3 separate regions of the Homo sapiens genome follow, and all the other regions are linked to region 1. Evidence: fine-mapped expression QTL. A gene starts in region 1. Each other region holds a variant in brackets. All regions are shown on one strand. Distances are from middle to middle. Region 1 holds the start of TMEM60 (transmembrane protein 60). Region 2 overlaps RSBN1L (round spermatid basic protein 1 like). Region 3 overlaps PHTF2 (putative homeodomain transcription factor 2).

The links.
Region 2: its variant is fine-mapped to the expression of TMEM60 in whole blood (INTERVAL, PIP 0.94).
Region 3: its variant is fine-mapped to the expression of TMEM60 in whole blood (INTERVAL, PIP above 0.99).

The regions. Positions count from the first base shown.
Region 1 is chr7:77,792,928-77,803,378 of GRCh38, forward strand. TMEM60 (transmembrane protein 60) reads right to left here and starts at 5,507. Exons shown (of 2, transcript NM_032936.4): 1 at 5,327-5,507; 2 at 801-1,496. The coding sequence starts at 1,446. The coding sequence ends at 1,045. It overlaps PHTF2 (putative homeodomain transcription factor 2), which reads left to right and starts at 5,846. Exons shown (of 19, transcript NM_001395272.1): 1 at 5,846-6,044. RefSeq lists an enhancer at 5,267-5,376 and a silencer at 5,787-5,926.
Region 2 is chr7:77,716,520-77,726,970 of GRCh38, forward strand. All of the region lies in intron 1 of RSBN1L (round spermatid basic protein 1 like), which reads left to right. Among named protein-coding and RNA genes, the nearest start is that of RSBN1L, 25 kb to the left of the region's middle. The variant C/CT (reference allele first, on the strand shown) is at 6,449.
Region 3 is chr7:77,860,821-77,871,271 of GRCh38, forward strand. All of the region lies in intron 2 of PHTF2 (putative homeodomain transcription factor 2), which reads left to right. Among named protein-coding and RNA genes, the nearest start is that of PHTF2, 67 kb to the left of the region's middle. The variant C/CA (reference allele first, on the strand shown) is at 5,364.

The DNA.
Region 1 (10,451 bases):
CAGCCTCCTGAGTAGCTGGGACTACAGGCGCCCACCACCATACCCAGCTAATTCTTGTATTTTTAGTAGAGATGGGGTTTCACCATGTTGGCCAGGATGGTCTTGATCTTTTGACCTTGTGATCTGCCCGCCTTGGCCTCCCAAAGTGCTGGGATTACAGGCGTGAGCCAGTGCGCCTGGCTTTTCTGCTCTGTTTTAACATGCCACCTCTAAATTATTTGTCCCAACCAGAAGGTAGAGGTAATAGTGAATTTAGCCTAGATAAAAATCTGTCAAACTCAGATTCTTTCTAAATGTAAATACGAAGTGGCATCCCTGTTTCAGGTTTTTTTTCCTTCATAATTTAGAAACACAAATGGCCATTTACTTTGGTCATAATACAGCCATGGTATATTAAACTTCTATTAAAAAATGTAGGTTTTGTTTTGTTTTTGAGACGGAGTCTAGTCCTATTGCCCAGGCTGGAGTGCAGTGGTGTGATTTTGGCTCACTGCAACCTCCACCTCCCGGGTTCAAGTGATTCTCCTGTCTCAGCCTCTCAAGTAGCTGGGATTACAGGCGCCCGCTACCATGCCTGGCTAATTTTTGTACTTTTAGTAGAGACAGGGTTTCACCATGTTGGCCAGGCTGGTCCTGAACTCCTGACCTCAAGTGATCCACCCGCCTCAGCCTCCCAAAGTGCTGGGATAACAGGTGTGAGCCACCTCGCCTGGCCCAAACATGTAGGTTAAAGGTTTTATATTTAGTTACTTTAGATATTGACCACATACAACAGATTATTCAAGAGTCATGTAGAAAAATGAGGTCCAAAACAAACTTTATTTACATAGAGATAATAAGGATCTCAATAACTCAAATGCTGAATAATTAAGCTGTAGGTTGACTAGAAGTCCGTGATTCACCAATCCTGTTTTATGGAAGTAGTATAAAACTACATTTGGTATTTTCCCTCAGTTCTCTGGTATTCTTGAAGCTTGACAGATTCAGAACACTTTAATGGTAACTTGTTGAACAGCAATAGAAAGGAGATGATGTACTTAGAAGTCAGTCTCTCACAAAAAAGACATTATATCCGAGTTCTGTTAAAGCCCCAGCCAGCAAGGCCCATAAAGGAATGAAGACATAGGATAGATTCATGGTAGTAAACTGTTCCAGTTTAGCACAGAGTGCGAGGCAGAAGGCTAATTTAAGTAACATTGCAATGAGGTACCAGGCTTTTTTTTTAATATTGTGTGATCCATGTCGAGGGTCAAAGCCAGACTTACACCGCCCAGCCATTTTCACAATCAGCAGGACAAGAAGGATAGTATCAAATATCCAGACTGGAATGAATATGAGGAACCAGTTCCAAGGTGCTTTCTCATCCAGTTTCAACACCAACATGATCAAGAAGAGTAGTGTGAAAAGCCAGGTGAGTAGTACTCTCTGAGCCAAGGACATTCTCATTTAAACAGTTTAAAGAGGCTGTTGCAGGATCGGAAAAAAGGAAATATACCCTAAGAGAAGGAGAAAAAGTCAAGATTGTTTTGATACCAGAAAAAAAGTATCACTTCCATTCCTAATGAACAAAACTGGTTCTTTCCCAACTGACTTCCTAATTTTGAAAACATTCTACTATTCTTCCTTTCAAATCCTCTAAAACTTAGTGATCATTGACATTATATCCACCATTCCTTACAGCCCATGACAAAATACAATTTTTATTATATCTACTGTATAAGCTCTATTCAAAATGTCAGGTGATTCCTTTTCAGTGCTATCACTCGAGTCCAGGCACTTACAACTTTATTCCTGCACCTCAAAGATGTTCTTAATCTTCCTATACATTTGCAAATCTAATTTTTAATTCAATTTCAAGGGGTACAAAGAAAAAAGCATTCAAAGTAGTGAAAAAGTGAAAGGTGGGTATCAAGCTGAGAAGAGAGAGAGTTTTAAAAGAAGGGAATGGGAAGGGTGCGTGGCTCATGCCAGTAATCCCAGTATTTGGGGAGGAGAAGGCAGGCATATCATTTGAGCCCAAGAGCTCCAGACCAGCCAGGGCAAGAGTGAAACCCTGCCTCTACAAAAAATAAAAAAATTGGCAAGGCGTGGTGGTATGCACCTTGTAGTCGCAGCTACTGAGAGGCTAAAGTGGGAGGATTGCTTGAGTCCAGGAGGTCGAGGCCGCAGTGAGTGCCCCGTGAGATCATGCCACTACACTCCAGCCTGGGCAAAAGAGTGAGATGCTGTCTCAATCAGTCAATCCATCAATAAAAGGAGGGAATGGTTAATAAAAATCACAAGAATATAAAGTAGAATTAATATTTTAGTGGCTGGGTGCAGTGGCTCACACCCACAGTCCCAACACTTTGGGACTCTAAGGCAGGTGCATCTCTTGAGCCCAGGAGTTCAAGACTAGTCTGGGCAACATGGCGAAACCCCGTCTCTACTAAAAATACAAAAAATTTAGGTGCAGTAGCACGTGCCTGTATTCCCTGCTACTCGCGAGGCTGAAGTGGGAGAATCACCTGAACCCGGGAAGTTGAGGCTGCAGTGAGCCGTTGCACACTGCACTCCAACCTGGGCGATGGGAGTGAGACCACTGTCTAAAAAAAAAAGATTGTAAAGAGGTTGTTGGGCTATATAATATAAAAGGCACTGATAACACTGGATTTTCATATAATTTGAAACATATTCTTAAATTCTCACTTATTTTCTCATAAAAATTCTTACAAATATCTTTCTTGGTATAATAGTTTTTTTCCTTTTAACAATAGTCTCACTGATTGGTGGTGTATATATGTATTTTTTTAAGCTACTTGTTATCCATTCAATAATCAGGACCACCTAATAAACTTTTGATGTTTTGTGATTATTAGATGCTAAATTTTGGGGGCTATTTCTTATATCACTATTCTGCCTCATTGATCTATATGTTTCTCTTTTGCACTAATACTATATGACTTAGTGTTGCTCTAGGAATGTATTAATATCTGGAAGGCCTAGTATCTACTCGTTGTTCTCTTTTCTAGAATTTTTTTTTTTTTTGAGACGGAGTCTCACTCTTGTCACTCAGGTTGGAGTGCAGTGGCACGATCTCAGGTCACTGCAGCCTCTGCCTCTCGGGTTCAAGTGATCCTCCCACTTAAGTTTCCCAAGTAGCTGGGATTACAAGTGTGCGCCACCACGCCCAGCTAGTTTTTGTATTTTTAGTAGAGATGGGGTTTCACCATGTTGGCCAGGCTGATCTCGAACTCCTGACCTCAAGTGATCCACCCACCTCAGCCTCCCAAAGTGTTGGGATTACAGGTTTGAGCCACCACGCCGGCCTCTTTTCTAGAATATTTTCTATTTTGCCCTTACAGTTTTTCAATGCTAAATTTGCTGATTCTTGAAAACCTAGAATTTTGATTATGAATGCATAAAACTTAGCTTGGGATAGCATTTATTATATTTAATCTTCACATATAGGTTTATGATATGTTCCTCTACTTAAGTTTTTTATACCAACCTTTATGGCCACTTGGAAAAAGGATAAGTAGAATGGGAAATCAGAAGCCAGACTGCATGCAGCTGGGTAAGGAGTTAACAGAAGACCAAGAAATGGAAACAATTGAGAACATTTTATTCCTTTGAGGCATTTGGAGAAGAGAAAAATGAAAGATAGGGTATATGAAACTGAAAGAAGAAATTTTCAGGAAAGGAAGAATTTATGACTATAAACAGAAATAAGCCAATGGGGAATGACACTGAAGATGAGAGAGGATACTTGATGGAAAGAGAAAAAGATCAGAAGGTGCTAGGGATAGGAACAAAAGCATGCGTGGTAGGAGGAAAGATGCAGGAAGATAACAGGGAAAAGGTGAAGGAACTGGCTAATTGAGCCAAATACCCTAGATTAGCGTGCTCAATTATATTTTAGAACTAACTTTGATGTACTGTGCAACATCTCTACTACTTTAAATAGTGGGTGGCTATCACAGTGCAAGAGGACACATCTGTTCTATTTCAACAGTTAAGTATTAGTCTCCTAACTCACCTCTTTTCCCTTATACCCATCTAGTGGCACTTAAACTTGTTTACTTAATTGGCAAAGGCTTCATACTGCAGTAATTTTGCTTCTAAGGAGGCATTTTTCTGTGTTGGTTTCCTTTCCCGGCCAGAGGCTGCCATAGAGTGGGATGTGGGACTGAATTTGGAAGCAGGGTTGGAGGGGTGTGTGTTGATTAATAACCATGGATGGATTTCATCCCGTAAATTGCACAATCCCCACCTCCAATCTATCAGGCCGTTTTTGTGAACCTCTGAAAAACGGTTTATGATTATACACTTGCTTAAACCTAACTGTTCCATCTGCTATCGGATAAGACAAGCTTCATTTTTTTCTTACATTTGGCTGTACTTACCACAGGTGCTTTAGGGCTGGAGGTGAAAGGATGCAAGTAACAATCTTATTGTGCCTACAAGATTTATAATGTGGGATGCAACAAAATTCTGTTATGTTCTTGCACGGAAATACCCTCAATGGGGAAGCACTGCTGATACTTAAATGACGATTGAAGGATTGTACGCCTGTATGCTGAGCTACAACGATGACATACGATCCCAGTTTTACATTTACGTCTTCATCAATTTGAGCAGTCGTTATGTTTCCTACTATTCTCTCCACAAGAAAGGGGGAGGTGCGTACTCCAAAAATGTGCTCAACTAAAATGTTTCCCATTTAAGGTGGTTATTTCTGGCACTAGGAAGACAGTTAAATATTTGTTAATGATTCCTTACTCATTTTTAAAACCTTCGGAGTTACCCCTGTATGGACATATATAGAGCCCCACCCACATAGCCCACGGCTGGGTATCAGCCCCCATTTCCCTTCTCTCGCCACTGCCAGTAGTCTACCAAGTGAACCTGCCTCATCCCAAAGATAATTTTGCTTCATGAGCCCACATATTTATTCTTCTTCATAATGAGTCGCTTTTGAAAAGCCCGTGCAGCAACAGCCTTGGCCAAAGGAACAGCGTTCTGCTTACAACTTAGCTCATCTGGGGGCCTATTTGCCCCTGGAACTTCAGGACGCTCCTAAACTATACTTGCCCTTCTGCAAACACCGACAGTCGGCTCGCGGCGCCCCACCGGGACGCTCCCCTTTCATGGGCTGTAAGCCCAGCACATGCTGGAGTTTAACACGGTTCCTGCTGGATGCGCACAGAAGCCCTGGAGCCAAGCAGGCGTGTGCGCGTTTGGGGCTGGCTGTGTGATGGGTTGAGGGTCGGCCGCACAGCCCACGGAAGCATCAGGAGACCAGCGCCGGCGTACGGTGCGGGCTAGGGCAGAGCCCCAGACTCACCTGGCAGCGCTGCCGGCCGGAAAGCGGAGAGGGACGCGAAGATCAGCAAATTCGCCAGTTTGGATCCTTGTCCTTTTCCGCCCTTTTCCCCCCATTAAATCCAGAACCCGTCACATGATAATTAAGAAAAAACTTCAGTTCCGCCTCCTCAAACGACTGCGGTAGAGGATCTCTCAGTTCTACCTCAGTGCCGCGCCCACATCCGGGGCTGGTTCTCACCGCCCCTGAGCCTACCCTATAGGTAGAGAGGACGCCAATCTGGATTCAGAGGTCCCTTTTCCGCGGTAATTGGACCATTTGTCCGCCAGTGCAAACCAACCGACCTTTCCTTACTTTCGGGTTCGACAGAAAGGCGGCAATAAAAAGACCCATTGGTCCCGCCTCTCTACTGTCACGGGTTAGTAGGGAAGTCAGTCCAAGATCAGCCTGGAGTTTCCGTGCTCCCATTGGGCCCACAGATGTTAATCAGAGCAGCCGGCGCTCAGCTCCGCCCTCTCGGGACGCCCCGCCCCTCCTCCCATCCTCCCTGCCCGCGCGCAGTGACTGCAGGCTCCGGCGCAAAATCCTGCGGGAGAGGGGGTGGGGCAACCCTCTGGAGGCAGCGCGCCCGCGGGCAGCCTCGTTGTGGCTCCTTGGGCTCTGTTGGCGGCGGCGCTAGCTTCGGAGTCTCCCGCGCGCACCTCAGCCGCCTCCTAGCGGCGCGGCGCTCGCTCCTACGGTAAGAGCGGCATCACCTCCGCGCTCGGGTGGGCAGTGTGGAGGTCGTCGAGTTCTGACAGAATTTCGAGGATGGATCGGGACGAGGGAGGAGAGCGGTCGTCGGGATGGAGGTGGGGGCTCCGGGGCCAACGCGTCGCCCTCCGTCGCCGGCGACTTTCCCGGCAGTCTCCCGTACCTGAGGGCCGGGGTCAGCCGCGACCCCTTCTCATCAGTCGGCCGGTGGCGGAGGCTCAGCCGCCTTCCTCCCGAGCTCGCGCGGTCCTCAAGTCTTGATGGTGACGGGCCGAAGCCCAGCGCGCCACCCGCCCCTCGGGCCCCGCTTCCAGGCCCCTGTCCTTTGCTTCCTTCCCTTGGCGCTGTGCTGAGGGGTCGTCGGGTCCTGGAAGGGCGTTCAGGGGTCTCGGGTGGCTAGCCCGGCTGGCGGGGAGATGTCAGCTAGCGGCCGGAGGAGCGGGCTCGGGAGGGGGCGGCGGCTCGCGCGCTGGAGGAGGTGGAAGGAGGGTCGCTGCCCTGCCCCCTCTGAGCAGGCGGCAGTCGAGTTTTCTGATCCCAACACGGCGGAGTGGGTGCTTAAGGCATGGGCCTTAAGGGATAGTTCCCGTCTGGAAACAATACCGTGCTCCATCAGCATGCTTCAGCTTTTCTTATTTTTATCTGCCCAGTGTTGACAGCCAGCATTCTGGTATTGTCCTTCGAGTCATGGCTTTCTAACTCAGCACCTCCTTGTGTAACTTCAGGGATCATTCTGTCACTAATCTGTCACCCTTCTTATTTTTAGCGTGGCGAAAACAAGGAACTGCCTTATACTAACCTGGGCAGTGCAGAATCTGGAACAATTTATTAATCTCAGTGTGTACTTTACATGCCAAGTAATTTTGAAATTCATGGTGAATATTAAATATTTTGTAGTTTTCGGTTGCTTTCTTTGTTAATAGTATATCCTCCTTGCTTTGAGACTACTTTTCAGGTGTGATACTTTAATCTTAAGGTTTTTGGTTAGCTTTTGCCATTTTTAAACGTTTCTTTCATTTTTTTTTTCTCCAAGACTTTGGCAAGAGACTTAGTATTTGATCTTGTTTTCAGGTATTTTTGTAAAGTTTATTTTCTTTCAAACTGGGCTTTTTTCACCATATTTTTAATATTGGAAGGGGAATTCTGAAAGTCTGGAAACTGCACACTTTAGCCTAAAGAGTCACAAAACAGTATAACAATTTGAAATCCTAACTTGGATATGGTGTATGGACTGCAAATTTTAAGAGAAGGAAATGGATATGCGTTATCAGTTGTAGTGGCTCCACCTCCATAACGTAGAGGAGAGGAATCTGGAGGTCTGCGGAGAATGAGCCATGTCTGGGGCCAGAAACAGTGGTTCCAGGAAATATTTTTGCCCCAGAAATAGCCTGCCTCCCACACAGACTGGCTGTCTGAATGCATCTGATAGTTTTAAGTTAGGTGTTAGTGAGGTGGAGAGTTTTCGTGTTCCAATTTTGACCACTTTCTGGTGGAGCATGAAAATGTGGTGAGTAAACAAGTATAGTATACAATGGGGGCACTCTTGCATAGATAGTCAAGCCTCCAAGAGTAAACTTTTTTTGAGCCCAAACTGGCACTGGACAGTTGGCCCTAAAAATGAAGAAGGTGGCCCACCCAATTTTTAAACCATGAACTTTTTTTGGCTGGTCCATTTAATGCAAAATTGCAAGGAATATGTAATGAAAAAAACCTTCACTAAACTGAAGAGAATTTAGGGTGTCATGTGGATAAAATGAAACTCGAAAATAGTTGGACTACTTGTATATTATTTAATCATTTTAGTCCTGTGAGATGGGTACTGATTACTGTCATTTTATAGATGAGCAAACCAAGACTTAGTTTAACTAATTTGTTCAAGATTTCTTCACAAATGAGTCAGTAGAGGTGAGATTCACACCTAAGCAGTCTGATTCCAAAGCCTACATTCCAAGCCATTATACTTTATTACCACAATAAAATTGGCTTCTTGGAGACTTTATAGTAGGAGACTACTCAGTGGAAAATAACACTGCAAAACCGTAAATTGAATCCACTATTGTACACAGTAACACTTTGAGATCATTGTATAATAGGCACTGTTGGATTTTGCTGAAGATAAAGGGATGGAGTCACCTTCTCTGTGTTTGAGGAGCATTCATTTGATGGGAGAAATAGATATTTGAACAAATGACGATAATACAATATATACAGATTGAGCATCTGTAAACTGAAAATCTGAAATGCTCTAAAATCTGGAACCTTTTGAGTGCCAAGATGATGCCACAAGACACTTGACTTCATGTGACAGGTTACAGTCAAGCTGGGTGCGGTGGCTCACGCCCGTAATCCCAGCACTTTGGGAGGCCAAGGCGGGTGGATCACCTGAGGTCAGGAGTTCAAGACCAGCCTGACCAATATGAAACCCCGTCTCTACTAAAAATACAAAAAAAATTAGCCGGGCGTGGTGGTATGCACCTGTAGTCCCAGCTACTCGGGAGGCTGATACAGGAGAATCGCTTGAACCCAGGAGGTGGAGGTTGCAGTGAGCCGAGATCGCACCACTGCACTTGGCCTGGGTGACAGAGCAAGACACCGTCTCAAAAACAAAAACAAAACAAAACAAAAAAACAGTCAAAACTTAGCTTCATGCACAGAATTATTTTAAAATGTTATATAAAATTACCTTTGGGCTATTTGTATAAGGTGTAAATGAAACATAAATGAATTTTGTGTTTAGACTTGAGTCCCATCTCTAAGATATCTCTTTATGTATATGCAAATATTACAAAATCCAAAATCCAAAATGCTTGTGGTCCCAATAATTCTTGAGACAAGAATTCAGTTAAAGTATAGACAGTCTGGATTTGAATTCCTATCAGGCTTTGTGACTTTGAACATAACACCAAACCTCTTTTAGCATCAGTTTCCTTATCTGTTTAATGGAAAGGGCAATACTTCAAAGAAGACATTAAGCCTTAAATAAAATATATAAAGTACGGGCACATAGAAAGCAGTGAATACAAAAGAAACAATAAATAATTTTAAGAGAGAACTAGTTGGGTTTCAGGGGAGCTACCACTGAAGCCTTAAAGGTCTGAAGGTGGTGTTTGTAGGTGGAGAAAGAGGGCATTCCATGCAGAACAGGAAGAGGCAGAGTCTCAGAACAGAAATATGGATTGTTTAGGGAATGGTAAGTAATTGTAGCTTTGTATAAAATGTATGTGTGAAGGCCAGCTTTAAATGATAATGGTATGTAAATGTGGTTGGGCAAAGTGAGTACTACCCAATTTTGATAATTGGAAATTGCATACTTAGATACTAAAATTATAGGAAAACCTCAGCAGTTTGTCCATTATTACATGTTTATTTAATATTCACCTTCCAATACTTACTTTCCCAGTTCAAATTAAGACTCAAAGAAGAATTCCAAAATGATGGTTGCCATCCCTTAACCCCTTTACCTAGCCTGTAGCCACATGGAGTCATTATTGTGAACTCCCCTTTGCATATATTTTGACTGTCTTTTCTTAATCCCTACTTGATACATGATAGTGGGACAGAGTTTTTTTATTTTGAGACAGGGTCTCATTCTGTCTTCCAGGTTGGAGTACAGTAGTGTAATTACTGTAACCTTGAACTCCCAGGCTCAGGCAATCCTGTTGCCTTAGCCTCCTGAGTAGCTAGACCTGCAGGCATGCACCACTGTGTCCAGCTAATGTTTTAATTTTTATTTTTTTGTACATACAGGGTCTTGCTATGTTGGCCAGGCTAGAGACCTCAAGTGATTTTCCCATCTTGGCCTACCAAAGTCCTGGGATTACAGATATAAGCCACCACTCCTGGCCAGTGTGTTTTAAATTGGGACTGCCCTTGAAAATCTGAGAAAGTCTCGTGCTTCTATCTTCTTCTCAGATTAATACCAAACCATAAATACGTTAAATTTACAAATCTGAAACATCACTTGATGACCAGAATCATATGACTAAGTGGAAAATATTAAGTGACATTTAGGAAAACTGCATTTTTAGTCCACTTTGTTATTCTCATGAAAATTGCTAATGTGACACAAAATATAGAAGTGAGTTTTCAGATGAGAACAACTGATTGCTTCCTGGAACAGGTAGTTTTAGAGCACTAGGAATGAAAATATGCTGGATTTTATTCTGGGTACTGAACAGGAACTGGGGCAGGAAATAGCTGTGGCTGAACCACTACCTGATAATAATCATAACATGATTAAATTTGACATTTAATGAGAGGAAGTAAAGGGAAAAGTGCATAGTATGCAGCTTTCCAGTTGCAAAAACAGTACAAGAAAGGGGCTGTTAAAAGTATATCTACAGAAATTTTAAAGACATGTAGGCATTCATATTTGTTGCATGAATGAAAGTAC
Region 2 (10,451 bases), 76 kb before region 1:
GTCACGCTCTAGATATTTTCATTAAATTTATTGATTAAACTAGGAGGAAATTATAGTCATGACAGAATTATCTTTGTACTTAAAAGCTGCATGTGTATCTTCATCTTTTTTTTTTTTTTTTTTTTTTTTTTAGACGGTGTCTTGCTCTGTCACCCAGGCTGGAGTGCAGTGGCTCAGTCTTGGCTCACTGCAGTCTCCGCCTCCTGTGTTCAAGCGATTGTCCTGCCTCAACCTCCCGAGTAGCTGGGATTACAGGCGTGCACCACCACGCCAGGCTATTTTTTGTATTTTTAGTAGAGACGGGGTTTCACCATGTTGACCAGGTGGTCTTGAACTCCTGACTTCAGGTGATCTGCTTGCCTTGGCCTCCCAAAGTGCTGAAATTACAGGCATGAGGCATGAGGCATGAGCCACTGTGCCTGGCCTATCTATTCTTACATTCTTTTTTTTTTTTCAAAGGAGACAGGGTCTTGCTCTGTTGCCCAGGCTGGAGTGCAGTGGCGTAATCATAGCTCATTGCAGTCTGGAACTGCTGGCCTTAAGCTATCTTCCCATCTTAGCCTCTTGAGTAGCTAGGACTACAGGTGAGCGACACCACTCCCAGCTGTTTTTTATTTTATTTTTTGTAGAGATAGTCTTGCCATGTTGCCTGGACTCAAGGAATCCTCTCTCCTTGACCTCCCAAAGTTGGGATTACAGGCGTCAGCCACTGTGCCTGGCCGTAGTCTTATATTATTTTATATCGTCTTAGAGATTTTTATTGGTATTTAATACAGATTGTAAGTTTTCTTCTAGTATTTTTATTTTTATGATGGGAGTTTTTCCTAGTATATTTTTGTGAGATTATTACTAGTATATAAAAAAGACTTTGGTTTTTCTACATATAATTGGTAATTGGATATATAATGTTATAACAGTGAGAAGCTATACAATTGTAATCAGAAACAGAATGAATTATAGTAAAATACTTTGTGGTACTTCAAGCATTGTTTTTGTCTTTGAAATCTGAGATTAGCAGAGATAAATATTTTTGGTTCTTAAATGCTGTGGCAAAGTGTTAAGAAAAATGGCAAAATCGATAAATACAATTTCTGCCTCCAAACAATGTAGCAGGATACTTATAATATATACTGCAGTAAGTTAAATACCATAAGTAGAAAGTTGTGGTGTGGAGTGAGGGCAGGCAGATACTAAGGCAGTTAAGAAAGGGACAAGGTCCCGGGTGTGGCTGCTCACACCTGTAATCTGAGCACTTTGGGAGGCTGAGGTGGGCGGATCACCTGAGGTCAGGAGTTCAAGACCAGCCTGGCCAACATGGTGAAACCCTGTCTCTACTAAAAAATATATAAATTAGCTGGGCGTGGTGCTGTGTGCCTGTAATCTCAGCTACTTGGGAGGCTGAGGCAGGAGAATCACTGGAACCTGGCAGGCGGAGGCTGCAGTGAGCCGAGATCGTGCTGCTGCACTCCAGTCGGGGCGACAGAGCGAGACTGTGTCTCAGAAAAGAAAGGGAGAAGAGATGTAGGAGAGGAGATATTTGAGAGAAACTTTGAAAGGGCAGTATGGTAGGATTTCAGCAAAGAGATAAAGGAGTTGTGGGGAGAGAGAACATTATATGAACTAATATTCATGGCAGCTAGATAGGAAAAGCGAGCTCTACAATGTCACAGAAGTTATGGGAGGAAATAATTTCAAGGCGTTTGATTGTGTTTATAGCTCTGACATTATATATTAAGCCTTTTTTCTTTTAGCCCTTCACTTCTTGATTTTAATATATCAGTGTATTTTGTTTTATGTTTTTTGAGACTGAGTCTCACTGTTGCCTAGGCTGGTAGGCACTGGTGCAATCACGGCTTCAACTTCTGGGCTCAGTTGATCCTCCCACCTCAGTCTCCTGAGTAACTGGGACTACAAGTGCACGACCACACCTGGCTAATTTTTTTGTATTTTTTATAGAGATGAGGTTTTATCATGTTTGCCAGGCTGGTCTCAAACTCCTGGGTTCAAGCAATCTGCCTGCCCCGGCCTCTCAAAGTGCTAGATTACAGGTGTGAGCCACCGCACCTGGCCCATCAGTGTATTTTGTAAGACAGTTTTCTACTTTAACATTTTTCTAGAGTCAGTGCATGTCTTGTATATACTTAAACAAAACAACTTTTTCATTATCTATAATAAGACTTTGTGAAGGCTGAATTATCTCTTAATGCATAACAAACTGCCCTAAAATTTTGTGGTTTGAAACAATAACCATTTTATTATATCAGATGATTTTGTGAATCACAAATTCTGGCATGATTGGCTGGGTGATTTCCTCTGCTTCACGCAGTGTTGACTGGAGTTGCTCATTGGTGTTGAGTTGGTGGCTGGTCTGGTATGGAAGGTCCAAGATGACTTTACTCACGTGCCTGTTGCTGTGTTATGTATGGCTAGATACTGAACTGAGTGAACCCTTCTCTTTCTCCAAGTTGTTTCAGGACCATTCCACATGGTCTGTTAATTAGGAAGTTGGATTTCTTACGTGGCAGCTCAGGACTCCAAGAGTCTTGACACCCAGCGACATAGGTGGAAACAGCAAGTCTTCTTATGACTTAGCTTTGGAAGTCTGAACCAATTTCTCACTGCACATACATTAGGGCACATAATGTATGTGTGTTTTGGAAAATTTCACTTGGAGCACATTCCAATTGAATTAAGATTGATAAAGCATCTGTAGGTGTGTATCTAATGATGTTAGCTAAATATACAACTTTTAAAAAATGTAGAACTTTAATTGGTTGTGTGAAAAAGTGTAACTAAGAGTATATAACAAGTACAACGAGAGTCTGGTTCCCATAGTTACATATGCCCACACATATTGTTATCATTAAGAACTATGTATATGATTTACCATTTGCATTACAGAGTATAATTTAAATTGTAATAAATAATGTAATTGTATAATGTGGACTTAGAGGTCTAAGAATGCCCCAGGTTGTATATATGTGAAACAATCACGTTTGATATAGTAGCTATAGACACACGATTCAGTGATTTAAAGTGATTTAATTCTGTAACCAGATACCACCTACAATATCTTAGTACTTCATATCTTGGTTTTATAATATGTTGAGAACAGACGAAATGCTTTTATTTCTGCTCTGGAGACCAATCTTTTCTGATAGTTTAGTGAGGAAAACCTGAGCTAAAATTTTTCACAGGCCACTTTATCATGTTATGCCTGGCATGGTTTTTATGTATATATGTATTTAAAAAAATTTTTTTTAGAGACAAGGTCTCACTCTGTTGCTCAGGTTGGAGTGCAGTGGTGTGATCATGGCTCACTGCAGCCTCAGACTCCTGGGCTCAAGTGATCCATCTGACTGAGCCTTCTGAGTAGCCAGTACTATAGGTGCGCACCACTGTGCCTGGCTAATTATTGTATTTTCCGTAGAGAAAGGGTCTCGCCATATTGTCCAGGCTGGCCTTGAACTCCTGGCCTCAAGCCATCCTCCCACCTTGTCCTCCAAAGTGCTGGGATTGCAGGTGTGAGCCACTGTTCCCAGCTGTATGTGTCCTTTTTTATTTTCCTCTTACTCTTTGTGTGTTCTTGTGACTATTGTTATTGTAGTATTTTTGTAACTCTTTGTTACTGGGTGCTTTTGTAATAAAATTCTGTTTATATTTAATAATAATAGCTACATTTGTCCAGTGCTTAAAATTAGGTATTGTGCATAGTGTTGGAAATAATGCATATGTTGCCTTGTTATAAAAATTGTAAAAGGCTGGGCGTGGTGGCTCGTGCCTATAATCTTAGCACTTTGGGAGGCCAAGGTGGGTGGATCACCTGAGGTTGGGAGTTCAAGACCAGACTGACCAACATGGAGAAACCCCGGGTCTACTAAAAATACAAAATTAGCTGGGCGTGGTGCTGCATGCCCGTAATCCCAGCTACTCGGGAGGCTGAGGCAGAGAATCGCTTGAACCCGGGAGGCAGAGGTTGCGGTGAGCTGAGATCGTGCCATTGCACTCCAGCCTGGGCAACAAGAGCGAAACTCCGTTAAAAAAAAAATTGCAGAAGACAAGTGTTATTATCTATACAGATGAGATTACTGAGGCACAACACGGTTAAGTAACTTGCTTCATGTCACTTGATCAGTTATTGGCAGAGCTAGAATTTGAGCTTAATATGTATAATTACAAAGCCTGAATTATTTCTATTATATCACAATACATTTGGGGTTTCTTTCTTTTTCATTTTCTTTTTCTTTTTTTTTTTTTTTTTTTTGAGACAGAGTCTCACTCTGTCACCCAGGCTCGAGTGCAGTGGTGTGATCCTGGCTCACTGCAGCATCAGCCTCCCAGGTTCTCATCCCTCAGCCTCCTGAGTAGCTGGAATTACAGGCGTGGGCGACCTTGCCCGGCTACATTTTGTATTTTTAGTAGAGATGGGGTTTCACCATTTTGGTCATATGACCTCAAGTGATCTGCCTGCCTCGGCATGCCAAAGTGCTGGGATTACAGCGGTGAGCCACCGTGCCCAGCCTACTGCTTTTTTTCTTATGTGGATTTAACACTTATTTATGGCCCGCTTTGTGCTTGGGTGGTGGTGGAAGAAAGGGAGATACAAAGAGGAGAACTTTCTGTTTCTTGCCTTGAGATAATTTTTAATTTAATTGGAGAGATAAATAGCTGCAATGTAAAAGACACTGCTCATTGTTGGTAATTTTGTTTTTTTTTTTTCTGTGTATTGCTTTTTTGTCTTCTATGATTGCCTTCAAATGCTTATCAATAGTAATTTCCTTCTTTTTACTTAAATCTTTTGCCTCCTGGAAACTTCATTCACATTGAGCATCACTTATATGCAAAGCACCATTCTAGGTTCTACAGAAGGTAGCAAAGAGCAAGATATGATAATTGCAAAGGAGCTTAGAAACCAGGAGGGCAGATTGAGCAGTTATACAAAAAATCAGAATTCAAATTATAGAAGAGGGAGGAGGAGGATATGATCATTTGTGATCATGGGCATCAAGGAGTGCTTAGTGGAAGAAGCTAAATTTCACCGTAATCTTACAGGATGTGTAGGATTTGGGCAGGAGGAATTGGGATGGGCAATCGCATTTTAGCTAAGGGATATATTAGTAAAAATATTGGAGTAAGACATTTGAGTAATGATGAATCAAGTAATCCGGAATCTTGTTATATATGTGGGTGAATAGTTGAAGAAAAGGCTAAAAGAAGGTGAGTCTTAACTGAAGATTCTTGAATGACATATTATGGGAGTTTTCTGTTTTTAGATAGGCAGAGGTAAGCTGAGTTGGTTTATTCATTCGTTTTAAGCAGAAGATAGTGACATGGTAAACTATACATTTAAGGAATCTTTTTTGGTCACTGTGCTTACTTGGTGGAAAGGAAAGAAACTATAGGTACGGAAACCCTTTCTTTTAAAAGCTAGTGAGAATACACTAGGTGGTGACTCTGGAAAGGGAAAAAAAGATGGAAATATTTTAACGAAGTATAAACTGAACTGGTCAAGTGATTTAGTGTTAGGGGAAAATTGAAGAAAGAAGTATTATTAGTGTTACTGAAAATTTTTTGTATTTGGATGTTGGATGAGGATGTGCCATTAACATAGAGAATTGGAAGGAGAACTTGAACTTTTTTATATTAGAAAGATGATATTTTGGTGTTAAATATTATGGAGATGAAGATGTGGAGTTTGGCAGAGGGGTTGGGTTGGGAGATTAATTTGGAGATTAGTTTGCCACAGGGTTATAGTTTACATCATGTGAGTGCATTTTTAGAGGCAATATAGAGAAGAGAGAGGAATGCCTAGGAGAGATCCTAGGTAAATGTGCAGGTTTGGATGGTGGGATTATGAGAATGAGGGAGGAGTCAGGTAGGATAGTACAGTTTCAGTGAAACTTAGGGAGAAATTTTGAGAAGGAATTGATACTGTTATGTTGCAGTGAGGTCCACGGAAAAAAGGGCTGAGAAGCCACTGGATTTTTTAGCTTTGATTAGCTGTGTTAGCGAGGGGCTGTGATAAATCACTTCTTTCCCATTTACTGTTTGTGAAGTCCTTTCTCTTCTTTTTACTGTATCCTTCATCTCCTTCAATTTTTATTTTAGTGTATGTAATTGTAATCATTTTGTAATGTAACTGCTTTTCCTTCTGCTTCAAATTCTTTACATTTCTCTTCTTCTGCCGCTGCTTGTTCTCTCATCTATTTCTAGCCATACATTATTCCTGGAAGGAATAATGTAAGAGAGGGAAGGTGGGGAATGTCATTGTTGTCGTTCAGTTCAGTTGATTTCATGGACTGCGTTATTATGGTGTGAATTATGGCTCATGGCTCATATTCAGGGCAGGCAAAACTGTGATGGTGTGAAGCTTGTTTGATGTTTGTGCAGCAACAATATATTGTGACTGAAAGCTGTAGTATGAAATTCTAACATTTCTTTCTCTCTT[C/CT]TTTTTTTTTTTTTTTTTGAGACAGAGTTTCGCTTTGTTACCCAGGCTGGAGTACAGTGGTGCAATCTCGGCTCACCACAACCTCCGCCTCCTGGTTCAATCGGTTCTTGTGTCTCAGCCTTCCGAGTAGCTGGGATTACAGGCATGCGCCACCTCGCCTGGCTAATTTTGTATTTTTAGTAGAGATGGGGTTTCACTATGTTGGCCAGGCTGGGCTCAAACTCCTGACCTCAAGTGATCCACGTGCCTTGGCCTCCCAAAGTGCTGGGATTACAGGTGTGAGCCACTGCGCCCGGCCAACATTTCTTAAGAACTTCCAGTGTGGATTTTTATGATGCTGTAATTTCTTAAAAAAATTAATGAACCTATATAAAGAATTTCCTATACATCAAAATCTGTGGTTGAGTAAAAGTATAGCTTCTTTTTCTTAAAAACTGTTAAGCCTAATAAATAATGTATGTGTGTATGCATATTCAGAATACATATATAATTTATTTTTTAATTCTAATTTTAATTTTTTGAGATAGGGTCTCACTCTTTGCCCAGACTGGAGTGCAGTGGCATGATCACAGCTCACTGCAGCCGTGACCTGCTGGGTTTAAGCGATCCTCCCACCTCACCCACCCAAGTAGCTGGGACTGCAGGCATGTACCACCATGCCCAGTTAATTTAAAAAGAATTTTTTTGGCTGGGCGTGGTGGCTCACACCTGTAATCCTAGCACTTTGGGAGGCCGAGGTGGGAGGATCACAAGGTTAGGAGTTCAAGACCAGCCTGGCCAGCATGGTGAAACCCAGTATCTACTAAAAATACAAAAATTAGCTGGACATGGTGGAGCATGCCTGTAATCCCAGCTACTCGGGTGGCCGAGGCAAGAGAACTGCTTTAACCTGGGAGGCGGAGGTTGCAGGGAGCTGAGATCACGCCACTGCACTCCAGCCTGGGACACAAGAGTGAAACTCTGTCTCAAAAAAAAAATTTTTTTTTTTTTAATAGGGACAGGATCTCTCTGTGTTGCCCAGGCTGGTCTTGAATTTCTGGGCTCAAGCTATCCTCCCACCTTGGCCTCCCAAAGTGCTAGGATTACAGGCATGAATGAGCCTTTGCACCAGCTTATAATTATTTCTAATTTTCTCCTTTTTTTCTCCTCTTGATTAACTATAGCATAACATCGAGATAATATATATCAAGTGAGGTAGAACAGCACTTGAACAGTTTTAATGGAGGGAGACCTTTGGAAACTTTTTTTAATGTGTTTATGTGAGTACATATTATGTTATATATTCAGTGTTTTACTTTGAATTTTTTTTTCTTGTATCTCCTTCTAATATACTGAGTGATTCTAAATCTTTAAAAAAGTATGTATCTGAACATAATTATTAATTCTTTCGGGAAGGAGAGTTAGGCTACCAACTTGATTGTACAAATAATACATAATATATGAATCCCTTTCTTTTTCTTTTTTCTTTTTTTTTTTTTTTGAGAGTCTCACTCTGTTGTCCAGGTGGGAGTACACTGGTGCGCTCTTGGTTCACTGCAACCTGTGCCTCCTGGGTTCAAGTGATTCTCCTGCCTCAGCCTCCTGAGTAGCTGGGATTACAGACGTGCATCACCATGCCCAGCTAATTTTTGTATTTTTAGTAGAGATGGGGTTTCACCCTGTTGGCCAGGCTGGTCTCGAACTCCCGACTTCAGGTGATCCACCTGCCTTGCCCTCACAAAGTGCTGGGATTACAGACATGGGCCACTGCGCCCGGCCATGAATCCCTTTCTATTGTAGAAGTTTCAAATAATTTAGGAAGTAAATGAAATAAAAACCAGAAGTTCCTTGTCTTTCTTCCCTAGGGGTAAGCCCCCTATTTTTTTTCTTTTTCTTTTTTGTTTTTTTTTTTTGAGACGGAGTTTCGCTTTTGTGGCCCAAGCCGGAGTGCAGTGGTGCAATCTCGGTTCACTGCAACCTCCGCCTCCCGGGTCCAGTCGGTTCTCCTGCCTCAGCCTCCCGAGTAGCTGGGATTATAGGCACACACCACCATGCCTGGCTAATTTTTTGTATTTTTAGTACAAACGGGGTTTCACCATGTTGGCCAGGCTGGTCTTGAACTCCTGACCTCCGGTGATCCACCCGCCTTGGCTTTCCAAAATGCTGGGATTACAGGCATGAGCCACTGCGCCCGGCCACAAATCCCTTTCTCTTGCAGAAGTTTCAAATAATTTAGGAAGTAAATGAAATAAAAACCAGAAGTTCTTTTTCTTTCTTCCCTAGGGATAAGCCCCCCACTTTTTTTTTTTTTTTTTTTTTGAGATGGAATTTTGCTCTTGTGGCCCAAGCTGGAGTGCAGTGGTGCGATCTCTGCTCACTGCAACCTCTGCCTCCTGGGTCCAATCGATTCTCCTGCCTCAGCCTCCCAGGTAGCTGGATTACAGGCATGCGCCACCATGCCCGGCTTATTTTGTATTTTTAGTATGAACGGGGTTTCACCATGTTTGCGAGGCTGGTCTCGAACTCCTGACCTCAGGTGATCCACCTGCCTCGGCCTCCCATAGTGCTGGGATTACAGGCATGAGCCATGGCGCCCGGCCAGGGGTAAGCCCTTTTAAGTGTTCTGTGCATTTACATATGTACATATGTAAACACACACTCACAGAAGAGATTATATCGTTTACTATTTTATTTTATTTTATTTTTTGAGATGGAGTTTCGCCCTTGTTGCTCAGGCTGGGTTCAAGCAGTTCTCCTGCCTCAGCCTCCCAGGTAGCTGGATTACAGGCATGCGCCACCATGCCCGGCTTATTTTGTATTTTTAGTAGAGACAGGGTTTCTCCATGTTGGTCAGGTTGGTCTGGAACTCCTGACCTCAGGTCATCCGCCTGCCTCCCAAAGTGCTGGGATTACAGGCAAGAGCCACTGCGCCTGGCTAAGATTATCTAGTTTATTTTTAAAAACCTAAATATACTATATATATGCCTTTTTCTGTAACCTGCTTTTTTTTTTAGTTAACAGTGTGTCTTGTAGCGCTTCTGTTATATATTGTTAAATTTATATACACATACATATACATGTGTATCTGTCTGTATTTCTAATTAAGTTTTGCCTTTATAAGTTTTTTAGTAAGCATTTCATTTCAGAGTAGTTTTAGATTTACAGAAAAGTTGCAAAGGTAGTACAGAATTCCCATACACCATTATTAACATCTTACATTTTTCTAGCACGTTTATCATAGTTAAGAAACAGTAGTGATGCATTATTATTAACTAAAGTCCATACTTTATTCAGAATTTCCTTAGTATTTTGTCTTATATCCTTTTTCTGTTCAAGGATCCCATCCAGGATACTGTATTACATTTAATCATCATGTCTCGTTAGATTCCTTTTGGCTGAGACAGTATCTCAGACTTCCATCGCTTTTAATGACCTTGATTGTTTGAGGTGTACCAGTTAGGTATTTTGTGGAACGTCTCCCAACTGGGATTTGTCTGATGTTGTCCTCATGATTAGACTGGAGTTTAGGGTTTTGGGGAGGAAGACAATAACTGTAAATTTTAAAAACAAAATTTAATTTAAAAATATCGAAAAATTTATAGTAAGAAGTGTCCCTAGCTTTCCCTACTGATTTCGTGTTCCTCAGCTCGTTTAGTATCCCATCTACTTTTTTTTGTTTTTGAGACGGAACGTTGCTGTGTCACCCAGGCTGGAGTGCAGTGGCGCAATCTAGGTTCACCGCAACTTCTGCCTCTCGGGTTCAAGCGATTCTCTTGTCTCAGCTTCCCTAGTAGCTGGGACTACAGGCGCGTGCCACCACACCCAGCTAATTTTTTTTTTTTTTTTTTTTTGAGGCAGAGTCTCGCTCTTGTTGCCCAGGCTGGAGTGCAGTGGTGCGATCTCGGCTCACTGCAACCTCCACATTCCTGGGTTCAAGTGATTCTCCCGCCTTGGCCTCCCAAAATGCTGGCATTACAGGTGTGAGTCACTGTGCCCGGCCTAATTTTTGTATTTGTAATAGGGA
Region 3 (10,451 bases), 68 kb after region 1:
CCCACCCCAGCCTCCCATATAGGGACGTGCCATCATGCCCTGTTAATTTTTTGTTTTGTGTATTGTAGTGATGGGGTCTCACTCTGCTGCCCAGGCTGGTCTCGAACTCCTGGGCTCACGTTATCCTCCCACCTCGGCCTCCCAAATTGTTAGGATTACAGTCATGAGCCACCTTACCTGGCCTTAATTGTTCTCTTAAATTGGACATTTCTATATCAGTTAAAATGGAAAAACACCATTAGAAGTGGTCAGTTTTCCTTTGTATTTTTGAAAATTATGTACTTACATTTAATTGCTCTCTCCCTTATTCTTTAATTTCTTTTTTTATTTTTATTTATTTATTTTTATTGTTTGCTTTAATTTCTAACACAATTTTTTCCTTAGGGTGTGTCATTCTTTATCTGGGATCCTTTGAAGTACTTTGTTTTCATGGTAAAGAGGGGTGTTTTAGGAAGGAACAAAACAAATGATGCATTAAAAAGTGGATAGAATAGATAGCTATAAAGGCAGATATAGTTTCAGTTATATCTTACACTTAATTCTACATGGTAATTTTGAGGAATGCACTATCCTACGTGGTGAATTTTCTGGGTATTTTTTTTTAAATGATCAAATTTTCTTTTACTTTTGACTCTTTCCTTTAACACTGCAAATAGAGTAGAAATGACCATTTTCTAATATTTTCCTGATTTGTGGTGGTTATTGTCTATTATGACTTTGGTTATAATACATTGTGATAGATCTGTCCTTTATTGTGAGTTCTCAGTTTAGCCTTATCTTGATTTGTTGTTTAATCAGTTTGCAGAATTGTAGGTAAATAGGCCAGGCACAGTGGCTCATGCCTGTAATTCCAGCACTTTGGGAGGCCAAGGTGGGCAGATCACTTGAGGCCGGAAGTTTGAGAAGAGCCTGGCCAACATGGTGAAACCTCGTCTCTACTAAAAATACAAAAATTAGCCAGCTGTGGTGGTGCATGCCTGTAATCCCAGCACTTTGGGAGGCCATGGCAGGTGCATCACCTGAGGTTGAGAGTTCAAGGCCAGCCTGACCAACATGGAGAAACCCCGTCTCCACTAAAAATACAAAATTAGCTGGGTGTGGTAGCGCATGCCTGTAATCCCAGCTATTCAGGAGGCTGAGGCAGGAGAATCGCTTGAACCTGGAAAGCGGAGGTTGCAGTGAGCCAAGATCGTGCCATTGCACTCCAGCCTGGGCAACAAGAGCGAAACTCCATCTCAAAAAAAAAAAAAAGAAGGAAAAATAGAAAAAAATACCTTTCACTCTTCCCTAGCAGTACCTTTTTAGGCTTCTACACAGTAATGTTTATAGACTCCAAGGGGATCCATCTATAGTTCTCCTTAGTATAAAAGTACTGAGTTCATAAAAACATTATCAGTAGAAAATTCTTTAAGGTTTTTGAAATGTCTTTTTTACAGTGTTAAGGCACTATAATACATACATTTCTACATTTTTAACATTTATTTTATATTTGTTCTCTTTAGAAGTTAAGTGTTTCATAATAGAATGTTTTTGGTTTTTGTTTTGCAAATACCTTGGTACATCAAGACTAGGAATTTCTATATAGTATATAATTTATTTGAAATACTGCAGTCATTTGCTTATGACTTTTTTTGGATAAAAGGAATAGTTTTTCCGTTAAAAGGAAGCAATCATTGGCCTGTAGCGGTTGCCAGATACAGCACCTAAAAATTAAAGTAGTAGTTTACACAGGTATGAGGAGATCCAAGAAATGATGCTATTTGAATAGAGCTGAAGTTCTTTATTGAATAAAGCTTCTTATACCTGTGGGGTATTGGAAAGAAAAATATTTTATGACTTACTGGAAAACTAGCCTGGAATCTTTTTCATTTTTTGATGAATAGGTTTAAAACAGAGATGTTCATCAATGATATAATATTTGCCGGTTATATTCCAAGTGTCTTGCAGTCAGTTTATTTTTAACCATAGCAACAGACATGATGGTGAAATAAAGTAGTAGATTACTGTTGGCAGCCTAAAATTAGGCAAATGTACCAACTTTGAAAGGCCTGGGAGTGACTAAAACACTGTAGTTAACCTGCTGTATGTTTACAGTTCTACAAAGAATGACATAAATGCCATTTAACAGGTAAACTTAGAAGCTAAATTGCTCTTTGCCTAATGGACCATAGAGTTTATTCAAATAAAAGCTGTAGATTCAGCACCAAGGATTGATTCACAGAGAATAAAATGCTGAAGATATACAACCTAAAAGTTTCCCATTTGAACTTTTGCCCTGAATCAATATCCTTATTGGCATATATTTGCCTGGCCATTTTAAGTGAAGTCTTGCTTTAGTTTGCTTTCTGTTTTTGGTGTCTTTTTCTCTACCCCTGTGATGGATTCGAATTACAAAGAGTTCTGGTTTACCTAGTTTGTGGAGAAGGGGGATAGTGTAATCTCTAATGAAGTAGGATGGTATATAAAGAGCTAGTTAGTAAGGTAGCCTTATTAAAATGTACTTCTTTTACAGCTTTGGGGAATCAGAGGAATGACGTCTTATTTTTCCAATCTCAAAATGGTAGGCAGCAGGGTGTATTTCTAATTACTGCTGTTTTGTCCACTGTGACACTTTATTATATGGTTCATTTTTATTTACTGGTAGAAAACCAAGGAGTAAATTACTAGGTAGAACCTCCTTACATTGATTTCATATAAGGAAAATTCAGTACATTTAGTTTTACCTATAGAGATTGATTTTTAGGATTAAAGATTTTTTTTTTCTTCCCTGTCCACCTCACCTGGTCTCAGTGTAGTTCTAAAGCTAAAGTTTATTACACATGGATTATTAAAGACTTTTTTTTTTTTAACCAAGACTTTCTCTTTCCAAAAAATCATGTCCTGATAGGATTTACACGCATTTATGTTTAAATAACATTTATGATGTGCCTACTATGTATCAGGCACTGAGTTCCCTGTTTTGTTTTGTTTTTTTTTTTTTTTGGAAGATAGGTTCTTACTCTGTCGCCCAAGCTGGAGTGCAGTGGCACGATCATGGCTCACTGCAGCTTCAACATCCTGGGCTCCTACCTCAGCCTTCCAAGTAGCTGGGGACTACAGGAGTGAGCCACCATCCCCGCTTAGTTTTAAAAAAATTTTCTGTAGGGATGGAGTTTCTCCATGTTGCCCAGGCTGGGCTCAAACTCCTGAGCTCAAGTTATCCTCCAGCCTCTGCCTCCTAGAGTGTTGGGATTACAGGTGTGAACCACCTTACCCAGCCCCACGGAGTTCTTATCTTTAGGAAACTCTGCATCATGGGGGAGCCAAGATGTAAACAAGTAACTATTATGCTTTATGGTAAATGCTACAGTAGAATTACCTTGAAAGTGTTACAGGAACTCACATAAAGTTCCCTGTAAATTTTTTCCTCTAGTCACCATTCTGTTACTGCTTTTGTCTTCTAAATATTTCTCAAATCTGTTGTGATCTCCCTACCTTCATTACTCTTTCATTCTTGTGCCAGTTAAATATTTTTTCTCACATCCACCAGAGTGATTTATCTTAAACAAAAATTTGACCTTGTCACTTATCTTTTTAACACTCGTCAAAGCCTTTCTTTCATATGTGGTATAAACTCTTTGCAAGGCCTATAACGATTTTTCTGGTCTAATTCCAGTTAGCTTTGTAGCCTCATTGCCTACCCCTTTCAGCCTTCAACTTTTCTTACCTTCTAACACCATCCCTCCAAATAAAACTGTTTGAAGTCTTCCCATGCTATTTTTCACCTTAGTGTTTAGACTGCCCACTTATGCTTTTAATTTTTTTTTTTTTTAACTGAAGTTGCTCCTTAAAACTCAAAGCTGGCATCTTCCCCTCACGGATATCTTTCATAATCCCCTGAAAACTGGATTAGGTATCTCCTCCTGCTAGTGCTCCTATGGGAAAGTTGTGTGTGTTCTTTTTGTGGCAGTGGTATAGCGCTTTTTTTTTTTCTTGATTCTTTCTCTTTACAGTTTACAGAGTAATATTGTAGTTACCTAGCATCCTCCAAAGGTCACCACTGTGTTGCTTGTTTGTTTAATTATCATTATGAACTTATGGCTTTAAAGATATTTCATATGTTTCCACCTGTTGGAGTTATTGTCCATAATAATGTCTTTCCCATTGTCAGACAGATTGTTCTGTCTTAATAATAGGAGCTTATTTAGGTTGGCTTCTGAATCTTTTTGACATGACCCTAGTAGTATGATAGTATTCACTGAGGAAAAAAATTTGAAATGGGAGCAATTGTTTCTGCATGGAGACAGGGAAAGCTACAGAGAGATCTTGATCCTCTTTTACCATCCTAGATATAAACATTCTGAGATGTTCCATATAAGCTAAATTCATTCTGCTCCATTTAACAATAATTACCTGGGAATCTCCTCTTTTTTCTTTTTTTTTTTAGACAGAGTCTCGCTCTGTTGCCCAGGCTGGAGTGCAGTGGCACGATCTCAGCTCACTGCAACCTCTGCTTCCCGGGTTCAAGCGATTCTCCTGCCTCAGCCCCCTGAGTAGCTGGGACTACAGGCATGCGTCACCATGCCTGGCTAATTTTTGTATTTTTAGTAGAGACGGGGTTTCACCATGTTAGTCAGGCTTGGTCTCAAACTCCTGACCTCATGTTCCACCCAGCGCAGCCTCCTAAAGTGCTGGCATTATAGATGTGAGCCATGTCACCCAGCCAATCTCTTTTATAATATCAATTATTATTCTACTTCTGTATTACAGTGGTATTTTGTTTATTCTACTGCTTATTACAGCCTGACTTGATAATTAATCTCCCCTGCTAATCCATGAGAGTAAGAATCATTATCTTTATATCGCCATTATTTCAGGGTCTTACTGTATACTTGGTACTTGGTAAATGTTTACTGCTTTGATAACAGTGCTGTCAGGAGACAGTATTTATATTAAACTTCTAATTTATATAGTTTTTTATTCTTAAATTAAGTACCTTTGATGTGCCATGTATCAAGCCAGGCACTTATTTCAAGGGACTTGATTTGAGTTGTCAAATCTGTGAAATAGGCTCTTTATACTGATTATTACATTAAGTATTAGGCTGGGCTCGGTGGCTCATGCCTGTAATCCCAGTACTTTGGGAGGCGAAGGCGGGCAGATCTCTTGAGGTCAGGAGTTCAAGACCAGCCTGGCCAATATGGTGAAACCATGTCTCTACTAAAAATACAAAAATTAGTCAGGCATGGTGGTGCACACCTGTAGTCCCAGCTATTTGGGAGGCCGAGGCAGGAGAATCACTTGAACTTGGGAGGCAGAGGTTGCAGTGAGTCAAGATCACACCACCACACTCCTGCCTGGATGACAGAGCGAGACTACCTCTC[C/CA]AAAAAAAAAAAAAAAAAAAATTATTAAACGTAATAGTTTATTCTGTAGTAACATTTCCTGAAGTGTGCTCTACATGATGTTAATAAGTATTAGGAGAATAAAAGGATTTTGTAGTCAAATCAGTTTGGGAAATATTGAGTGAGACACAGGCAAACAAGTTATATGATTTCAGGATTTTCCAGTGCAAATAATGTGCAGTTGACTGTCTAAGAGGCAGACAGAGAAAATATCATTTCTCAATTTATTTGACTTAATTTTTTCCCCTGAGTATCTGTTGAACATACTTAGGAAAATACTGGCCTGTGGTTAACAAGTTACGTAAAAGAGTGTGGTGCAGTGGAAAGGGCATGGAATTGGAAGTCAGAAGCTGGGTTTTACCATCTGTAAAACCTGACGTCTCTTAAAGCCTCAATTGTCTCGTCAGTAAAAAAAAAAAGTTAATACTGGTCTGTACAGCATAAGATTGTTCTCTTTAATGGTCTCTTATTTGATTTCAAATGAATGAATAGCAATAATATGTTAGGTATTTTTAAAATAAGTAACCAAGTTATGTTAATATTTTTGGCATTTAAATTGCCTTAAAATATGACATAGCTTTTCTTGTTATAGTAAACTATTAGAAATATGTAAACAAGGATGGTGCTGTAGCCTTGATTTATATTTTGTACACATGATTTAGTCAGGGTTATGTTTTAGAATGATAAACCAGAGTATATGCTATGATGAGTAGTAAAAGAATGCAAATAGGCATATACATTCTTTCCTTGTCACATGCTGCAATATGAAGGAAAAGGAAGCATTAGGTAATAGCCAGATGACATAATGGTTAATTATTGAGCTTTTGCATGTCTGTTCCTGTTGTTTGCTCCATACATATTAGTACATTTAGTCCTTATAATTACCCTTTGATTAATAATACTAATTATTTTACATGTTGTTAAGGCTAAGTTGGACTTCTTGAAGAGTTTTGTGTATTTTTATTTGCTTTTTAAATAAGCCCTGACAGCTTGCCTGCTGGCAAGATAGCCCACAGAAGGTAATACAGGGAGAAGTATATGACAATGATTAGGGATTAAATGTAACCCTTCCCAGACATCTCTTAGTGATCAGAACCAAGGCAAGTGAACGTAGGGTCGTTTTTGTGGATGGATATTAATGAAATTACTGGTGGGTAAGAGCACAGCTATGGAGCCAGGTTGTCTGTGTTTGAATTCCTGTTTATTGCTACTATTTAACCTTGTACAGCCTAAGTCTTTATACTGTAAACATAGAGATAGCTGTAATACCTACTTAATAGTGCTGTGAGAATTAAATAAGTTAATACGTGGAAGGGGTATCAGCACTTGATAAATGCTGACTACTTATTATTGCTGTTATTGTAATATTGTGAACATTAACTGCCTCAACTGGCATTTGAGGAGTAAAAAGCAGAGACATTAGTATACTTCAGTAACTGTGGTTGGACTTTCTATCCAAGGTGGGGGAAAGGGCGCAGCTAAGGAGTTCTGGTGTATCATAGGAAAAAATTATCTAATAGTAGATAGCAGTTGACAAGAGTATGTGAGAGCTTTCATTTTTTTCTCCTGACATCATCTTAGATTGGGTGATAGACAGTGTAATAAAGTAAATACTTAATCTACAGCTTGATGCTGTAAAACATCTGTGCAGTTCTCCTTTACATACGATCTTTTGTTTTAGTAGATTGATGAATCCCTGTTTAAGGAATTTACAAAGTTGGCAGAACTTTAAAGCAAGTTGTATTCTAGGGGGCAAATCATGCCCAGTACCTTTTATAAAGTAGTTAATACAGATGAGAGGATATCATAAATATACCCATTAATGTTAAGAAACATTTCCTTTTTTCCCCCCATTCTATATAAAGTACCTTGGTGGAAACTTCCCAGTCTCCTTGGATGGCATTTAGCCTTTTATATGTGAAAGAAGTAATAAAATTGGATCTTTTGTTTTTTTTTTTGAGACAGGGTCTCACTTTGTTGCCAGGCTAGAGTAGTATCCTGCACTATCATAGCTCAATGCAGCCTCCAACTCCTGAGCTCAAGCAGTCTTCCTGCCTTAGCCTCCCAAGTAGCTGGAGCTACAGGCATGCACCACCTCGCAAGTGGCTAATTAAAAAAAAATTTTTTTTTTTTTTTTTTTTTTTTTTTTGCAGAACAGAGTCTTGCTTTGTTGCCCAGGCTGGTCTTGAACTCCCGGCTTCAAGCAATCCTCCTACCTCAGCCTTCCAGAGTGCTGGGACTACAGGCATGTGCCAACTCGCCCAGCCAAAATTGAACTTTTTATTACAATCATGAATACAAAGAAAAAGTGAAAGCTATTCTTCATATTCTGATTAATTAAAAACAAATTTCAGTAAGTCAAAGAATGGATATACCTGAAATGGGTAGCACATTTACTTAATTCTCATCTAAACAAGTAATTTGAAACGGTTTCTGCTACTAAGAATAGCAATTTCCACAAATTGCTATTATTTTGAGAAAAGACAAATCAGATTTATCCTAGGAAGGTAGCATTAGATAATGGAAAGCCTATGGGCTTTTATGCTTGCAGATGGAATCCAACTTCTGTGTTTTAAAAACTATCTGGCCTTGGGCTAACATCTCTGAGACTCAGTTTCCTCACGTTTAAAAGGGGAATGATAATGTTGACTTTTAAATGATTTTTGAGAAAGTTCTAGCACAGTATCTGAGAAATTTTAAAATAAATATTCCCTTTCATTTTGGCTTGAACAACTTGAATTTGTACCACACATAAATATAGATCCTATTCGTACTTTATTAATCTTAGTGACTTAAAAATCAAGCAGGAAAAAGCAAAAAAACAAAAAAGATCTTTGGAATAGAACATCCTGTCTTTCAGTCTGGTTCTGTCATTGGTTCTCTTTTGACTTTGAGCAAGTTATTGAAGGTCTTTACATCTGTTTCATTTTTTCAGTTTTTAAATTTTTAATTGATACGTAATTAATTATACATCTTATGGGATACATGTAATATTTTGATACATACAATGGGTAATGATTAGATCAGGGTAATTAGGATATCCATTACCTCAAACATTTATCATTTCTTTGTGTTGGGAACATTTTAAAACTACTCTTCCAGCTATATTGAAATATATAATAAATTATTGTTACCCTCCTGTGCTATCAAACACTAGAACTTAATTCTTTCTATGTGTGTTTTGCACCCATTAACCAAACTTTCTTTATCCTCCTCACTTCCCAGTCTCCTGTATTACTCTCTACCTCCATGAGATCAACTTTTATAGCTCCCATATATGAGAACATAGCAATATTTGTCTTTCTATGACTGGCTTATTTCATTTAACATAATGACCTTCAGTTCCATCCACGTTGCTGCAAATGGCAGGACTTCCTTCTTTTATATTGCTAGATCATATGGTAGTTCAATTTTTAGTTTTTTAAGGAACCTTCATACTGTTTACCATGGTGGCTGTACTAATTTACATTCTTACCAACAGTGTATTAGCATTCCTCTTTCTCTAGATCTCACCAGCATATGTTATTTTTTGTCTTTTCAATAGTAGCCATTTTAACTAGAGTGAGATGATATCTCATTGTGGTTTTGATTTGTATTTCCCCGATGATTAGTGATGTTGAGTTTTTTTGTTGTTGCTGTTTTTGTTTTGATTTTTTAACATACCTGTTGGCCACTTGGTTTGTCTTCTTTTGAGAAATATCTATGGCGATCTTTTACCCATATATTTGAATTGGATTATTTGTTTTTTTGCTGTTGAGTTGTTTGAGTTCCTTATATATTCTGGTTATTAATCCTTTGTTGGATAGTTTGTAAATATTTTCTCCCATTCTGCAGGTTGTCTCTTCACTCTGTTGTTTTCTTTGCTGTGCAGAAGCTTTTTAGTTTCATGTAATTCCATTTGTCTATTTTTGCTTTTGTTGCCTGTGCTTTTGGGGTCCTACCCCAAAATTCTTTGCCTAGATCAGTGTCCTGAAGTGTTTCTCCAATGTTTTCTTCTAGTAGTTTTATAGTGTTAGGTATTACTTTTAAATCTTTAATCCATTTTGTTTTTTTTTTTTTTGGTATGTTGTATTAGGGTTCTCTAGAGGGACAGAACTAATGGAAAAAAATTATATATATGAGTTTATTAAGTATTAACTCACACTATCACAAGGTCTCACAATAGGCCATCTGCAGGCTGAGGAGCAAGGAGAGCCAATCCGAGTTCCAAAACTGAAGAACTTGGAATCCGCTGTTCAAGGGCAGGAAGCATCCAGCACAGGAGAAAGATATAGGCTGGGAGGCTAGGCCAGGCCAGTCTCTCTTTTCACATTTTTCTGCCTGCTTGTATGCTAGCCACACTGGCAGCTGATTAGCTTGTGCCCACCTAGATTAAGGGTGGGTCTGCTTTTCCCAGCCCACTGACTCAAATGTTTATCTCCTTTGGCAACACCCTCACAGACACACCCAGGATCAAAACTTTGTATCCTTCAGTCCAGTCAAGTTTGCACTCAGTATTAAGCATCACAAGTCCACCCCTTGTCAACCTGAACCCATACACATCTCCTGAGATCATATATAATCTTCAAATAAAGACAATAATAAGCCTAACATAACACAGCTATCCTTTGTACAACCAGAAATGCACCAATCCCCATTCCAAATACTATTACATAAAGTTAACAATACTTAAATGCTGATGTGAAGTCAATAAATCTTTATATCACATGATAAAGGAGAAAGGAAATAAAAATGAAGATATTTTCTTAGTATAAGTGTATACATGCACAAACATTTTTAACAAAAGAAGGAGGAAACACTCATGACAGTTACAGTCCTTGTTTCTGCAGCTGATCGTGTGGTCGTAGCTGGTATTGATGACTACCTTCTTCTACTACCCATTCTGTATTCCCTTGGCCTTCAGCAAGCACCTCAGCAAGTCATGGTGTTTTCTCTGGTGGAGTGACCCAAACCTTCATTCCTGAATGGTCTCGGGGTCATTTGTAGTCCTGCCTGAATTGGGCTGTTGTAGTTTCCCATTGACCTTAATCACACGGCATGGTGATATTAAGAGACGCCTTAATGGATCTT